2 separate regions of the Homo sapiens genome follow, and region 1 is linked to region 2. A link means that fine-mapping ties the variant in region 2 to the expression of a gene that starts in the linked region. Tissue or cell type: whole blood. Region 2 holds a variant in brackets; the other region holds the start of a gene. All regions are shown on one strand. Distances are from middle to middle.

Region 1 (8,101 bases), 250 kb before region 2:
CACACACACACACACACACACAGAGTTACTTGAAGGCCCAGACCTTTCTCTCTCCTGATAAGTCAGTTAACACTTGTTTAATTGCTTTCCTGCTTGTGAACTTTTTGACATCCTTTGTCTGCTTTTGTATTCCTTCGTTTTTTCTTGTTCTTCTGAATCTTTTTCACTTTTACTCCTTTACTCTTCTTTTAGTGAGGTCACAATAGGGAGTGGAGATAAATAAATGCATTTATTCAGATAAACTATATTTATAACCTTTCTCAATCTACAACCTTATTTACCTTGGTGTTGTAATTGGTTGTGAAACAGGCATCATTTTATGCTTTTGACTGGCCATTCCAAGCCATTCTGACAAGAAGAACTTGAGCAGAGACTGAAGATTGGCCTTTTAAAATTTTATCTCAAATCACTGACAATTCTGTTTAATCTGGACTCCTGCCTTTACATTTTTCTACTACACATTTATAGAGTTTTAAAAGTTGTTTAGTCCCTGAGGAAATCCTGTTTGTGTCCGCTAAGCATACTCAGATGCAGAAGTATAAAAGAATACCTAAGCTACTTACTATAAGTCATACAAACAAGATGGCTAAATATCAATTAAAATATTTTATTTAAAACATTAAAACTTGGGGGTTCATACTTTTCCTTAAACAGTGATGCCTTGGCAATAGACTGAATAAGTTTGAGGATCTCATTATAAAACCAAGCAACAATTATTTGTTGAAGTGCCTGAGTTGATACCTGGAGGAACATGAAGAAAATGTGAAATATTGTTCTTGCTCTTCTCCTAGACACTTAGCCATGCCCTGTGGAGTCCTAATTTGATCAAAAGCACAGGCTTTTCATTTGATACATAAAACTAAATCCCCTTCCTGCCTAGTTGGTGAGACATAGTTATATATGAAAAATACTAGCAATACAAGACAACACAACACAACTAAGTGTTTAATCATCAGTCAGAGCCAGCAAATACTATGACATCAGAACAGGAGGTCAAAGAGAGTAGAAGCAGATACCACAAATATTTATTGAGTTCTCATAAAGTCTGTGTTTTAGGTGTCCTGGGAACACATTATTGAATGAGAACTTTCTAGATAACTTGGCTTGGTCTTGAATAATGCACTGGATTTATACATGGGGAGAAAAAGAAAACAAAAACAAACACACATCACATGAGCGGATCACAACACTGTGACAGAACTGAGACCTGTGTGTGATATAGTTTGGCTCTGTGTCCCCACCCAAATCTTATCTTGAATTGTAATCTCCGTAACCCCCCTGTGTCCAGGGTGGGACCTGGTGAGAGGTGATTGGATCGTGGGGGCTGTTTCCCCCAGGCTGTTCTCATGATAGCGAGTTCTCACGAGATCTGATGGTTTTATAAGTGTTTGACAGTTCATCCTACACACACATTCTCCCTCTTGCCTGCCACCAAGTAAGACATGCCACTTTGCCTTCCACCAGGATTGTAAGTTTCCTGAGGCCTCCTCAGCCATGTGGAACTGTGAGTCAATTAAACCTCTTTCCTTTACAAATTACCCAGTCTCAGTGGTATTCTTTATAGTAATGTGAGAACGGACCAATGTAGTGTGACTTGGAAGGGTGAGAGCGATGACCTGATTAGATTTGGTGCTCATGTTAAGAAAAAGCAGGGAATAAGTTTGGATTGTTGGGTGGGCAGAAGCCCACCAAGGTAAGAGAATTCTTAGTTTGCAGAAGAAAGAAAAACAGCACATTGTGTCACACAGATCTTTTGATGTAAAGCATGACTTTAATGCATTCTTATGATATTATATAGGGAAACATTTACATAGCCCCTTCATAACTGTAATATGCCCTAGTTTTGTTTGTCAGTTTATTTCTTTGTTATTTACTCTACAAATAGTCCTTGAACTTGAGGAAGAAAAATGGGAATGGTTTGTGTTTTACTTAAATTATAAGATCAAAGATGGCAGATGATTTATCCAAAGCCCAGGCAAGTAGGAAAAGCTCCCCCTTCCCTTCCCCTTTTCCAGGATAGAAGAGAGTTGGCTGGTTACTTTGCAGGACTTAAGATGATCTTCATTTTAAAGAATCTGTATCAGCCTCCACTGTGGTAAGATGTGACTGGGATTTCAAGGTTTCCCCTGTCTCTACTGATTTACCTAAGTAGGACAGAGATTTCTGGGGCATGCCTGCCGGTGGAGGGCAGTAGGTCACTCAACTAAGAGCACAGTATTGTTGAGAAAATGACACTAAAGTGGTCATCTGGGATGCTACTTCGCTTTTGGTAAATAACTTTGCATCAACTTCTCAAGTTCCACCTCTCAGTGGAGACGGATGCTAGACAAAGGTACCAGACACCGCAGCCTGGTCGGCTGAACAAATGGAGTTATAGCCTTAGATTTTGTTTTCGTGATGACTAAGCTGACCAGGTTTCTTCTTTGTCCTTGCACACTTTATGCTTGACGAGATGCTTAAGCAAATAGAATAGGCGACCGCTAGGAGGTACCCGAGCTATGCGTCGGCCGCCGGGGCGAGCAGAAATGGCTAACAGCGACTCTCTCGGCTCGGTGGGTCAAGGCGGGTGGTGCTTTTCCAAGGTCGGGGTTGCGATAAGCTTATCGCTTATCACAAGCAAGAAGGGCAAGAAGGACGTCTAAGAACCAACGGTCCTTTAATCTAAAAGGCCGCGCGCCTCCAAGGCAATGTGACATCTTGAGGTCTAGTGTTTGGGCACCAGCTGCCTGCACATCTGGATGCAGCACTTCCTTTCAGGGAGGAGGCGAGGCGGAGGACCCCGGAGTGCACGCACCTCCTCGTGCGCGCGCTCGCTTGCGCCCGTGAACGTGTGTGTGTGTGTGTGTGTGTGTGTGTGTGTGTGTGTGTGTGCGGGCGCGCGCGCACACACACGGGCCGCGGCTCCGGGACCGGCTAATGGGGGTGGGGGCCCAGGAAGGAATAAATCTCCGCCAGCCTCCTCGCGCCTGGCTGCGGGTTAATATCCAACCAGCTAGAGAAAGACTAGGGTGACGGCAGCAGGGTGACAGCCTGGGCACACCGGCCGCTTGTCGAAGGATCAGGATATTAGCCAGTCTCCGCCACACTCAGGGACTGATATATTTCTATTGGCGGGGGGCTGTTGGTTTTTATTGTCTGCCGTTATCTCCAAAGAACAAGGGCACGAGTGAGGGGTGCGCGCTCTGGGCGAGTGTCGCGGCTCGGATCGGGTCGAAGGAGGCAATTTTGCGGGTGGGGGAGGGAGGGGGAGACCTTGATTTCCACCAATCCCCGGGCGTTTGTCTGCGAAGTCCGGGGCGCAGCGGAAGGCTGCGGCGCGCCGCTGAATTAACTGATGAGAGCGAGTTCTTTTCTTCTCCGGGAGGGGTGGGGAGCGAGGGTCCCGGCGGGCGAGGCGGAGGAGCCCGGGGCAGGATAGCGGTCCCGGGCCGCCGTGGAAATTTCCAAGGACTTGGTGCGGCGCAGAGAGCGCGTCTCGGGGCGGGGTGGGGGGGGGGGGGTTGCCTGGCGGCGCAGCAGCGCGGGAGGCGGCGAAGGGCGCAGGAGCATCGCTCGGAGGGGACAAGGGGACGCCACGGGCCACATGTTTAGGAGGGAGCCGAGCCTTCTCCCGGACCCTCGCCGAGGGCGACCGTGATGCTGCAGAACCGGCGGGAGCGACTCGCCGCCGCCGCTCTCTGCGCACTCGGAGACCCCAGCGCCCGCCTTCTGCAGGGGAAGCGACCATGGCCATAGATCGTGACTTCACCCCCAGCCACTTCCCCTAGAAAGAAATCCTTGGAAAAGTTGCATTTGAAAAAATCCTTGCGCTGACCTTTGGGGCCGACGGGGCCGAAGAAGCGTGCGTGCGTTTGCAAGTAAGAGAACCAAAGGTGTGTGTGCATGGGGGGCTGGCGGTGGGGGACCCTCCGCTGCCACTTCGCCTAGCTTTGTGCTGAGGCCCCGGCCCCCGCCCCTGGGACGCCGGGGCTGCGATGAGCCCCTGCGGGCGGGCCCGGCGACAAACGTCCAGAGGGGCCATGGCTGTACTGGCGTGGAAGTTCCCGCGGACCCGGCTGCCCATGGGAGCCAGTGCCCTCTGTGTCGTGGTCCTCTGTTGGCTCTACATCTTCCCCGTCTACCGGCTGCCCAACGAGAAAGAGATCGTGCAGGGGGTGCTGCAACAGGGCACGGCGTGGAGGAGGAACCAGACCGCGGCCAGAGCGTTCAGGTACTCCTGCCCTCGCGGCTCCTCCCCTCTAGCGTCCTTTCCTCCCCGAGTGCAGAGGACAGGGTCACCGGCGAGGACCGCCTTGCACCGTCTCGCAGAGGCATCCCTTTCATCCGCTCTTCCATGTCCTTTCCCTCCATTTGTGCCATTCCCAACCTGGAGACTTTAGTCAGGGTTCCTTCCCCACCCCTGATCCCCAGAGATGTGCAGACACCTGCTTTGCGCATGTAAAGACTCGACGCATTTCTTCCCAAAGCGGAGTTTTATTTAACAATTTACGGATAAACAAAACAGAGGGAAGGAGAACCCAGGATAACTTAGTCTCTTGCACTTAATAAGAATTTACCTCTTGGGCTCTGCAGACATTTGAAGCTGTAGGGAACAAGAAGCAGGTAAAAGGCATCTCCCCGAGGTGGAGTGCACAGTCGGTAACATAAGTCCCCAACGTCGGAGTGATGGGCAGTGGAAACATGGACGGATCCCGCAGCTTTGCGCAGTGTGCCCACAGCAAGTGCATAGTACTGACTGACGTCTACTAAGAGACGATACTGTGCAATTTTTGTGTTGAAATCTCGAACAGCTGTCTAGTATTATTATCTCATCTTGTTGACCACAAATTGATTCTTTAGAAGGATGAGTAACTTCCCCAAGGTCATTACTTTTGACCTGTGGGTGCTGGATTTTTCATCACTTAAAGCTCCAAAGCTCCCAGCTCTTTTTATTGGCTTAGGCTGTGGATGCCTCTGGAAGATGGGAGATGTACTTTAAGTAGGCACCTGAAGTCAGAAAACAAACAAAATGCCCAAGCCAGGTTGGAAATCAGAACTCTGAGGATCACTCAGAGGTTGTAGATCCGCTTCCTTTCTGGGAATTTTAGATTAAATGTCTAAAAATAAGTTACGGCAGCAGGGGTTGTGTAGTTAGATTGGAGGGAAGGCAGAGCTGCTTCCCCTTCCTCTCCACCTCCCCAGGCATGTTGAGGGAACACACGGGTGCTTCCACCACTGCGAGGTGCCCCTTTCACCTTTAGTCTCTGGGGCTGAAGATGCTGCTGTTGGCTTCTTCCTGTGATTGTAGTGGTCTGGGTGGTTGGAAATGATCTCCTCTGCTCTGTAGAGGATCTTTCTAATCAGTGCAAGGGCAGGTGAGTTCTAATGTAAACATTTTTCACTGCAGTTATTTACAAATATTCAGGAGCATCTATACATTTTTAAAAACTTTTTAAACATATGGTTTCCATCTCCTTCTCAGGCCTCCTCCTGGAAAGAGGATTAAAAAGATAACAGAGCCAATTTGTTTAGAGGAAGGCAACTGCATTCTCCTTGGAAGGGAGGACTTTCCTTCTCCCTTTTTAGAACTCTACCATCATTGAATTTAAAAATAACCTCACTCTTCCTAAAAGTATCTAAGGGTTAATTTTTTCTTTCCTTCACAGTATTGATTGTGGGACTCAAGAGCAGGCAAAAGGCATCACATCCAGCAATTATTTTCCCTAAAGACAGAAAGCACTTTCATTTCAAGTGATCTAAGGAAATGAGTTAAGAACTTCCCATTGGTTTGCAATGAAAGAGTCCATTTTTTTAATATAGGAGGAGGAATAATGAAGCCCTCTTAGAGGATAGATTTCTTGTTGGAGGATACAGTCAAGTGGAAAATGCTTCAAATTCTGAGACACACAGGCTGATAGTTTCTGAGACACATTTGTTCCTTGCTTTCTGTAGCCTGGAGTAATTTTCAGTGTGTTTGGCTGTTATCTGGTCTGGTCTCTATGTGCAGAGAATTACTTATTAAAATCCACACACTATGAAAACTACCTAAACACATATCCCTCAAAGTTAGTGGCTGTAAAACCATGTAAAAGGCACCATTGCTTATTGAAATAAGTTTGAGCTTCAGAGTAGAATTCTGAATTTCTACACTGAGTATGCTGTGACTAGATAAACAGCAGAGAATCTTTGGCAAGTTAGTATATTTTTTGAGTCCTGGCTTTCTTGTTTATCTACATTGCAGAGTTGTTAGAAGGTTTACATTTTTAATAAAAACTGATGCCAAGTATCTGGTACATTGTGTACCCAGAAAATGGTTGCCTTATAATTGTTATAAATTATATTTCTGGTATATGTTACAACTTAAATAAGGAAATCTGGGCAACCCATGAGAATTTGGAATGTTTCTCCTGCCAGATTTACAGGTAAACATTATTGGTCCCTACCCCTCTCCCCAGCCATGTACACTTAACGCTAATGAACAGGGACAAGACATTTTGAAAGGTAGGAGAAGTTTCATGGTTTGAGTTAATTATTTTTTACCTGCACATTTAATGTTCTTTAACATTTGGATTGTCAGTATATGGCAGTAGTGTTTATTTGTTAAATATTAGACCAGTCAGTCAGAAGCCATTATCATGTTAAGGAGACACAACTTTGACAAACAAGCATCTGTTTTTCTCCAGTCTGAAACATCTTCTGCATAAATACAGATATATGCACACAAATGCACAAGGTGCACTTATATGTTGAGATATAGGTGCATTTATTCACAAATCATGGAATGGTGTCATGTATGTATAAAAATATAGATGTGTATACATACATAAATACAAACATTTGCAATCAGTCAATTAAACAATATTTCATGAGTGACTACTCTACATCAGATATGTGTTAGGCCCTGGGGGATAGCAGTGAATAGGATGGATAGATTGCCTCCTCTAAGAGCTTTCCTCCTAGTAGAGGATGATTGACACACAAATAAATACGATGACTTAACATACGGTTAAATTCTGTGAAGAGAAAAGGGAGTGTTTCACTATGTTTATAAACACCAAAATTTAAGATTTTATTTTGCCCTCTGTGCTTCCATTTACTTTTGTAATTTTCTTCTTCTAGCTCAGTACTTGATATGTACTGAATTCTCAGAGAAGAACCTTGTCAAACTGCGAAGGAGATGGCAGGAAGAAAGTAAGAAAGCTGTAAGAGTTTTGAATAGAACAGGAAGTTTTCCTAATGTTTATGTGGTGATAGAAAGATAAAGGAATCAATAGATCCTATTATAGAAACTTTCTTAATTCTTGTTGCTTTTGATTAAGTGATACTGTGGGAAATGCCAAACCAAAGCAGTGTTTGTTTCTTCCATCAGATCCTCACCCATTTCATTTGCTCCTCAGAAATGAACCTGAATTCAGAATTTATGTGCAAGGCTTTATTCATGGCACCTGACATGGTAACAATAATAGTAACAATTAAGCTAACAAGTTATTAGGTGCTTATTATCTGCCTGACACTATGCTAGTATGTATTGTCTCATTTAATCCTCATAAGAATCTTGTATAAATTGATATATCATTATCCACATTTATGAAAATGAACATGCCCTGGTCTTCAAGGGAGTTGCTATAATCCCATGGAAAAGACAGATAATGTATATAATTAACTAACTGGAAATAGGGCCATCAAAGACAGGAAACATAGCAGAGTGAAAACCTTATGGATTTGGGAGCTGTCAGAACATGGTTGGAATTCTGGCTGTATCCCTTTCTAGTTGTGCAATCATTGGTAAGTCCAATCTCAGAGCTTCAGTTCCTCCATTTGTAAATTGGGGCTTGTAAGAATGTCTTACAAGTTTGTGGTGAAAATTACATGATAGCATATAGACAGCGCCTGGAATGATGCTTGCCACATAGCTCTGTTTAATACGTGATTGTTATAACAATAGAAACACCAGTGAAGTGCTGGGGATGTTCCCAGAACATGACATTTAATTCTACTGAAGGGAGGGAAATCGGGTTTCAGAGAGGAGGTGGTGTTTGGAGTAAGCCTCCAAGGATGGTAGGGTGGCATAGTGGTAAGAGGTGAGGATAGAAGTATATGCCAGGCAGAGAGAACAGCAAAG
Region 2 (8,108 bases):
TTATTTCCATAAAATGAGGAAGTAGTACAGAAAGACCCCTTGAGGGCCCATCCAGGTCAGTACCATTTCCACGCCCTGAAATGCCTCCCTCAGGGACACCACCCCTTGGAAACACAGAGAATAAGGAATGCAGTGCAAGTGTATGGAACAGGATAAAGAGATGTGAGGTCACTCCCCAGCCACAGTCATCTACTCTGGCTCTCATAGGTACTTCAGGTTTTCTGCTAAGCAGGCACAAAGGGGTTTCATTTTGAAGAATTATCCCACTATTTTTTACAGTGATGAAGGAAGGATAGGAAGTCCTTTAGAAGGGACTCCAGGAGCTGTACCAAACTCTGAAAATACTGATGATTAAGCCACATGGGGTCATCTCTTCTGAGCCTCCATACAGAAGTGAAGGGTGACAATTAAATAAGAAAAGTGTGACGATAGAGGTCTGCAGATATGAATCTGTGTGTTGGGGGACCCAGGAATGGGGCTCAAAATGAAGCCTCAGAGGCTGCAATAGGTAAGCAATGTTTCCTCAGACACAATAGGTACACCTAATGTACAATTGTTCTGGTGGGCATGTGTCCAGCATGCCCACATAGCCAGCTGGGTCTCATCTTTTGCAAAATATGGCCCTCTGGCCAGGTGGATCAGGCATGAGCAGAGAGACTATGGCTGAACTTGACGGCTCCTTGACAGATCCCTCACCCTCTTTATGGTCCAAAGCTGCCCAGTCTCCAGAGCCACAAAACCAGCCTTAGTTTAATGTTGCCTAGAGGGGTCATAGTCCAACTTTTTTAACTTCATTGGCATTCTTTTCCCAGTTGTACATTCATATCTTTTAGACCATTTCTCAAAGCACATTTTGCAAAATATCAGCATGCTAATTACCTCTGAAGTAATTGTTTAAAATTCCATTTGGGAATTGTTGCTCAAGAACAGTAGTAGTCAACTCCGGCTCCACATGAGAATCACAGGGGAAAAATATTTTTAATAGCAATTATCTGGGCCTCATACCAAAAGACACTGGTTTGATTGGTCTGGGTTATTCTAGGCATCTGAATGTGCTGGAAGCTCCCCACAGTGACTTGAGTGAGTTAGAGTCTCTTCCAACGAACAGGTGTATGTCTGGAGGCAGGTGGGCGGGATGAGGCCACCTGAGGCCTGTTGGTAATCAGGAAGAAAGTCTCCAATGCACACGGAGTACCTATTAAAAAGACTATAGGATGGTTCCTGAGCCTGGATTCCATCCTGCTGTGCTTTCAGAGGGCTGCTCTCTCTCCTTCCTTTCCAGAAAAGGGGGCCTTCACAATTTCATTCCTCTAATAGATTCTCACAATTCAGTGTGCATAAAAGTCATCTGATGGAATTTTACTAACATGCCAATTCCCAGACGTTATCCCAGAAATTTTGATTTAGTAGCACTGGGAAGGTGCTGGAATATATATTTTAGCAATTACTATATGATTTTGATGAAAGTGGTTGAGGGACCATCTTTGAGGAAACACTGCCTAAGCCTTCGCCAAGGTATAATCTGCTACCCTTGGGAATGTTCCCTGTCTTAAATTTTGGATCTAGCACCTAGTGTCTGGCCCTGGGTATAATCATTAACCTTTCTGTGCCTCAATTTCCACACCTGTAAAATAAATGAAATAAAAGTGCTTTATAGAGGTTGTGAGGATTAAAAGAAATTAAGATAGAGGTCATGGTAATGGCCTGAGGTAACCAGGTGATAGATCTGGGTAGCTTAGGGAATACGTGTGTGTGTGTGTGTGTGTGTGTGTGTGTGTGTGTGTTTTGAGACAGTCTTGCTCTGTTACCCAGGCTGGAGTGCAGTGGCACGATCTCGGCTCACTGCAACCTCTGCCTCCGGATTCAAGCGATTCTTGTGCCTCAGACTCCCAAGCAGCTGAGATTAGAGGCGTGCGCCACCATGCCTGGCTAATTGTTTTTGTATTTTTAGTAGAGATGGGGTTTCGTCATGTTGGCCAGGCTGGTCTCACAGCCCTGGCCTTAAGTGATCCACCTGCCTCGGCCTCCCAAAGCGCTGGGATTACAGGCTTGAGCCACCGCACCAGGCTGGGAATACATCTTTCTTTTCGGTTGGCGCTGGTCCTCTAGTAAGGCAGTAGCTTAATCATTTACGTGTCCTCTTTCTATCTCAGCCTTCCCACCACACTTCCCCACTCAAGGCTCACTCCAGACATTGTTAGAAGAAATTTTCCTTCTATCCATGTGATGTGTTGTAAAGAAAGACTAAAAAGTATCCAAATTGTACTTTATAAACAATTTCCTATAGTGGAGATTGATACTCAATGTATGAAGGTCAAATGATGAAGATGTACCATTAAGCCTCATCAGACTCTATTAGTTAATTTCAGTCAGCAAGTGACAACTGCACATTTTAAAACCTAGATCTGTGATGACACCCAGTGGCCAAAATGTCAACCACTGAAATTTTAAAAATACATCAAGTATTTTCATCAGCATACAAATAATATTGCATCAACTTTAAATTTTGAGAGCTATTCAATAACAAAGCATGAAAAGGTTCTACACTGGGAATGTCACCAATGAAATGTGGACAAACCAACTTTCTTTAGTACTGTATTTAGTAGAACTTTCCCAACCAGTTCAGGCAGATAAAAGCACCAGGTTATCAAAGGTGACACATTCCTAAAAAAAAAAAAAAAAAAAAAAAAAAAAAGCTTTTAAACTTGGAAAAAGTAATTTGCATCAGTATATAGCAAAGAACCAATGACCAAATGCAGGAGAGTACAACAGAGATTATTAAGACTTCACACATGGTCCTTTAAATAATTAGAAAATCATTAACATGCTTAGCTTGGCAATTCAGATAACAGTAATTACTTTAGCCAGTACCCATCCCAAAAGGTACAGGATATTTTGGACATTCTTTCACTTGCTCATTCAAAAATATTTCCTGGTGTCCTGGGTTGAGAAGCAGGCTTGGGGAGGGAGATTAATGTCCATGATGTTTGTGAAGGCAGGCTCCTGGGATCGCACTTGTAGATGGAAAACGAAGGAGGAGGATTGTGGAGAGAGAGAGGAGATGGTTCCTATACAGCCTCGGTTGACTCACAGAGAGCGCTGAAGCTAGCCTGGCCTCTCAGCTGTTGTCCATTCTTGGGGTAATGAAGCAGGGCTTTTATCCTCTGCCTCCATCCAGTCACTGGATGTGGGCT[A/C]CTCCCAGAAAGGGAGTAACCTTAGGTGAGGCAGCGCTGAAGAGGCCTGACAGCTGAGGCTTGTCTACTGACAACACTCCCAGCAGCTGAGGGGGATAAGACCTCCAGGCTCAAGGGTGAGCTCTACGGCCCAACACAGCGTCCACCACACTGACGCAATATGATGCCGACAAAATAAACAGGCTTTTCGATCTTCTGTAACTTGAAGGTAAGTATTAAGCCAATGAACACTTCGATATATACTTAAGGCTGTGAAGGAAGAGAGGGCTTTAAGAGAAGAAAGGGCAGGGGTTGGGGGAAGGAGAGGAGGGCTAACGCCTGGCTGTCTGCTGGTTTCATAATCAGGGCGGAGTGGCAGGAAGGATACAAAAGAGAACTATAACACTTGGACTGGGAATTGTTTACCTTATTCTGTGGGCAGCATGGAGTCACTGAGACTTTTACAAAGGGAACAGAAAGCATAAAGTAGACAAGTAAAGTGGTAGTGGAATAGATTGGATTCGAAGGAAATTAAGCATTTCAAAGTCAACACAGGAATCAAGCATTTTCTTTTGAAGGTCATCTCCAATTTGGTCCTGTGTTTCTGGTCTCATTTCTTACCATTACCTTGTAGATCCTTTCAGGCCTATACAGATAACGACCTCTTCCATTATCTGAACACAAACGTTAACTCCATTTTTTTTGATATTGTCCTTTGACACCAATGAAATTTTCTAGTTTAAGATCCAGCTCAAATTTCACCTCCACTTGAAAAGATTTTTCTGCTTCAAGCCCTTTAAGGGTCTCTCTCTACCCTTATTTTCAGGATAAAGCAAAAATGTCTTAATGTAACTCACAAAAACCAGTACAATCTGGCCTCTGTTTATTCACCTCGCCAGACTCATATCATCCCATTCCCCTATATTTGTTTGCCGAGGTGGTGAGCTTGTGCCTTATTTGGCTTTTTATTAGGTTGGGGCAAAAGTAATTGTGGTTTTTGCCATTAACCACAATCACATTTGCACCAACCTAACAATTTCAGGAAATGTAATAATCTTTGACATGCTAAATGCTATTCATTGTTAAATTGAGAAAAGGTAAACAATCTTCACAAATAAAATTACTTACTTTTGATAGCTCTTCCCCTTCAATGAATCATGGTTTAATACAGAGTATTGGCTGGGTGCAGTGGCTCATGCCTCTGCTCCCAGCTCTTCAGGAGGCCAAGGCGGATGGATGGCTCCAGCACAGGAGTTCAAGACCAGCCTGGTAATGTAGTGAGACCTCATCTCTACAAATAAATACATACATAATAATAAAGAATATTTCTTTTCTAAGTTCACTGATGTACTAAGAAATTTAAGACTTCTGCACTATAATTTGTAGCCAATCATCCCCAGAGCCTTAAATGCTCATGTTAATCATAAATATGATATATGTTTCTTCTATGTGAAATATTTCTTCTAAGTAAAACATTAGTACATTTGCATCTGTAGAATTAGAAGGGACAATTAAAAGGGACAATAGAGATCATCTATTATAAGCGCCTCAGATTATAGTCAAATAAACTGGCTTGTGGGTGTTAAATGTCTTGAAAAGCATACCTTAGCTAGTTCGTGACAATGTTGAAGCTAGAAACTAAGTTCATTTATTGCCAATAATAATAAACATTTAGAGGCCCTACACGAGCCAGGTACTCCTCTAGACATGCTATATATATTATCTCATTGAATCTTCACAATCCTGTGAGGTGATACTGTTATTATCTTCAATTAGAGCAAAGAAGCTTAGCCACGGAAAGGTTGGCTAAACTTGTCCAAATTCCAAAATGCAAAATAATTAGAATAAAAACCCTCAAAAAGATCTTTCTCTTTTCACCTTCTCAAATTTCCAAACCCAGATGTATCAACATATATAATGCATTAAAAATTAAACTCCTTCCATTAGAAAGTAGACTCCATCTTCTGACCCCTTGATCTGAGCTGGATGGTCAGTAACTTGACTCACTTTGACCAGTAAAATTGAGGCTGAAGTAACATTGTGTGACTTCTGGGGAAGTTATCAAAAAGTGTTGCAGCATCCAATCTCACCTTCCAGCTGCTCAGAGACTGTCACGTTAAGACACTTAAACTAGTTTCCTTAAAGTTGAAAGACTGCAAGAAGAGAACAGCCCAGACACCAGTAGATATATGTGAGGGAAATTGACTTGGACTGTTCATCGATTCCCACCATCAACTGACTGCAACCACAGAGTGAGACCATGAAAACAACTCTACTTACCTTAGCCCAAATTGTTGATCCACAGAATTATGAAAAAGTAGTTATTTTTTCAAGTAAACGTGCTTTGAAGCTATTTGTTATATAGTAATTGATAATTGACAGAGCATATGATACTGTCGTTTGATCGATTTACCATGGAATTTCTCTTCCTATCATTTTGTTTTTAACTTTTCTGAGTCTTTAAATTTAAAGTAGGTTTGTGGTAGCCAGCACACAGGTAAGTCTAGTTTTTTTTTTTAATTTAATTCAACCTGACAGTCTCTGGTGTGTTTAGAACATTCATATTTAAAGGGATTATTGATATAGTTGCATTAAAATTTACCATCTTTGTAATTGTTTTCTGTTCATTGCATTTGTTCTTTATTTCTTTCTCCTGCTGTTTTTCTGACTTCTCTGGGGTTAATTAAGCATTTTGTATGATTTGATTTTATATCTTTACTTGGTATATCATATATCTTTTATAAAAAATTTAGTAATATCCCTAGGGTTTACAATATATATTTTAAAATAAGTCCACCTTCAAATAACATTATATAACTTTATAAGACTACTCCCGATTCATTCCTCCCATTCCTTGTGACATTGGTGTCAATTATTTCACTTGTCCATATGCTATAGTCACCCTATACATTGTTACTATTATTACTTTAAATAGCTATCTTTTAGATCAATTAAAAATATTATTTTAATTTCACTTGTTCCTTTTCTAATGCTTTTCTTTGTATAATTTTTGACCTATATCATTTTTTTTTCTCTCTGAAGAATATCTTTAACATTTTTGCAGGGCAGGTCTGCTGGCAATGAAATCCCTCAGTTTTCTCCACAAAAGGCTTTATTTTTCACCGTTGAAGGAAAATTTTGCTGAATATAGAAATATAGGTTGACAGGGTTTGTTTCAGCATTTCAAAGATTTCACCTCACTCTTCTTGCTCACGTGTTTCTGAAGCCAAATCTGATATAATCTGTATCCTTAGTTCTGGTTTGTTTTTTTTTTTTTCTCCTTCTGGCTTCCTTCAAGATTTTCTTTGTCTTTGATTTGCTGCAGTTTGAATATGAAATGCCTGGTTGTAGGATTTTATTTTTAATTGTTTGTTTTGGACTTCTCTGAGCTTCCTGGATTTGTAGTTTGATGATACCGTTATTATCTTCAATTAGAGCCAGGAAGCTTAGCCACAGAAAGGTTGGCTTTGGTGTTTGTCATTAGTTTTGGGAGTTCTTAGCCATGTATTATTTCAAATATTTCTTCTGTCCTGTTCTATTTCTTATGCTTCTGGTATTCAGTTATACCTTTTGATATTGGCCCACAGTTCTTGCATATTGTATTCTTTTTTAAAATTTATTTTCCTTCTGTTTTTCAGTTTGGGAACTTTTAAAATTGAGCAATATTCTGGCCGGGCGCAGTGGCTCACGCCTGTAACCCAGCACTTTGGGAGGCCGAGGCGGGTGGATCACGAGGTCAGGAGTTCGAGACCAGCTGACCAACATGGTGAAACCCCGTCTCTACTAAAAATACAAAAATTAGCCAGGCATGGTGGTGCGTGCCTGTAATCCCAGTTACTTGGGAGGCTGAGGCAGGAGAATCACTTGAACCTGGGAGGTGGAGGTTGCAGTGAGCCAAGATCACGCCACTGCACTCCAGCCTGGGCAACAGAGTGAGACCCCGTTTCAGAAAAAAAAAAAAAAAATTTGACCAATATTCAAGTTTACCTATTCTTTCCTTAGCTATCTCAAGTCTACTGATAAACCACCAAAAGGCATTCCTCATTTCTGCTACTGTTTCTTTGATTTCTAGCATTTCCTTTTGATTCTTTCTCATAGTTTCTGTCTGTATTGACATTATCTATCTGATTTTGCATGTTGTGTACTTTTTTCCATCCCTTTTTTTATTAATCATAGTGTAACTGTGTACCCTCATTTTTCTAAGAGATAGTTTTTTACTATCTTTCTTCTTCTCGCTCTCCTTCTTTTCCCCACTTCCTACTTAGGTCTTTAGAAATGCAGTTATAGCCTTTACCTCCTCTTCACCAGACACTCCCTAGAGGGCAAGTTTATTTAACTAGGTTGTTAGAAGCTCCAGAGTGAAACTCTCCTACCAGGAGGCTGCCTAAAGAAACAACAGTCCATCTACTACCTAAAGTATTTCCACTGTGAAACTCTCTCCCACCTGGAGAATTTTCTGCTGCTTTTACAACCTAGTCTTGTCCACAAAGGGACCAGCAGTTACCAGCTTGACCACCCGGTAGATAAGGCACCGAGGCTAGTATGCAGACCCCCCACCTGCTCACTGACTCCTCTGCATGTCATTCATGCCAGCATGCTGGGCCCCCTTTAAAAGCACCCCACTTTCTGCTCCAAAAGTGAGGTGGTACCCATAAAGACAAGATCCTGCTCCTCTTCCCCTAAGCAAGCTTTGGAATAAAATGTCACTTTCTTTATACCTTGCTCCTGTTAATTGGAGTGACTGGACTTGTGTTTTGGTTACAAAATGTGGAGTGGGGAGTGACTGGACTTGTGTTTTGGTTACAATTTTTGTGGCTCATATGGGGAAGTACTTCATGCCCTGGGTGAGCTAACTTTGTCAGCCCAGTTTCACTACCAGGTGAGGTGTGGGGTCACCTGTGAGTGCCAGCTGCTCATGGCTAGCAGACCCCATAA

Evidence for each region. PIP is the estimated chance that this variant, and not a neighbour inherited with it, causes the effect.
Region 1: it holds the start of ST8SIA1, and the variant in region 2 is fine-mapped to the expression of ST8SIA1 in whole blood (TOPMed, PIP above 0.99).

The regions. Positions count from the first base shown.
Region 1 is chr12:22,330,106-22,338,206 of GRCh38, reverse strand. It overlaps ST8SIA1 (ST8 alpha-N-acetyl-neuraminide alpha-2,8-sialyltransferase 1), which reads left to right and starts at 3,500. Exons shown (of 5, transcript NM_003034.4): 1 at 3,500-4,210. The coding sequence starts at 3,975. It overlaps LOC105369151 (a long non-coding RNA gene), which reads left to right and starts at 4,217. Exons shown (of 2, transcript XR_931426.3): 1 at 4,217-5,354; 2 at 7,099-8,101.
Region 2 is chr12:22,077,680-22,085,787 of GRCh38, reverse strand. LOC105369690 (a long non-coding RNA gene) reads left to right here and starts at 3,261. Exons shown (of 5, transcript XR_931423.4): 1 at 3,261-3,402. The variant A/C (reference allele first, on the strand shown) is at 3,195.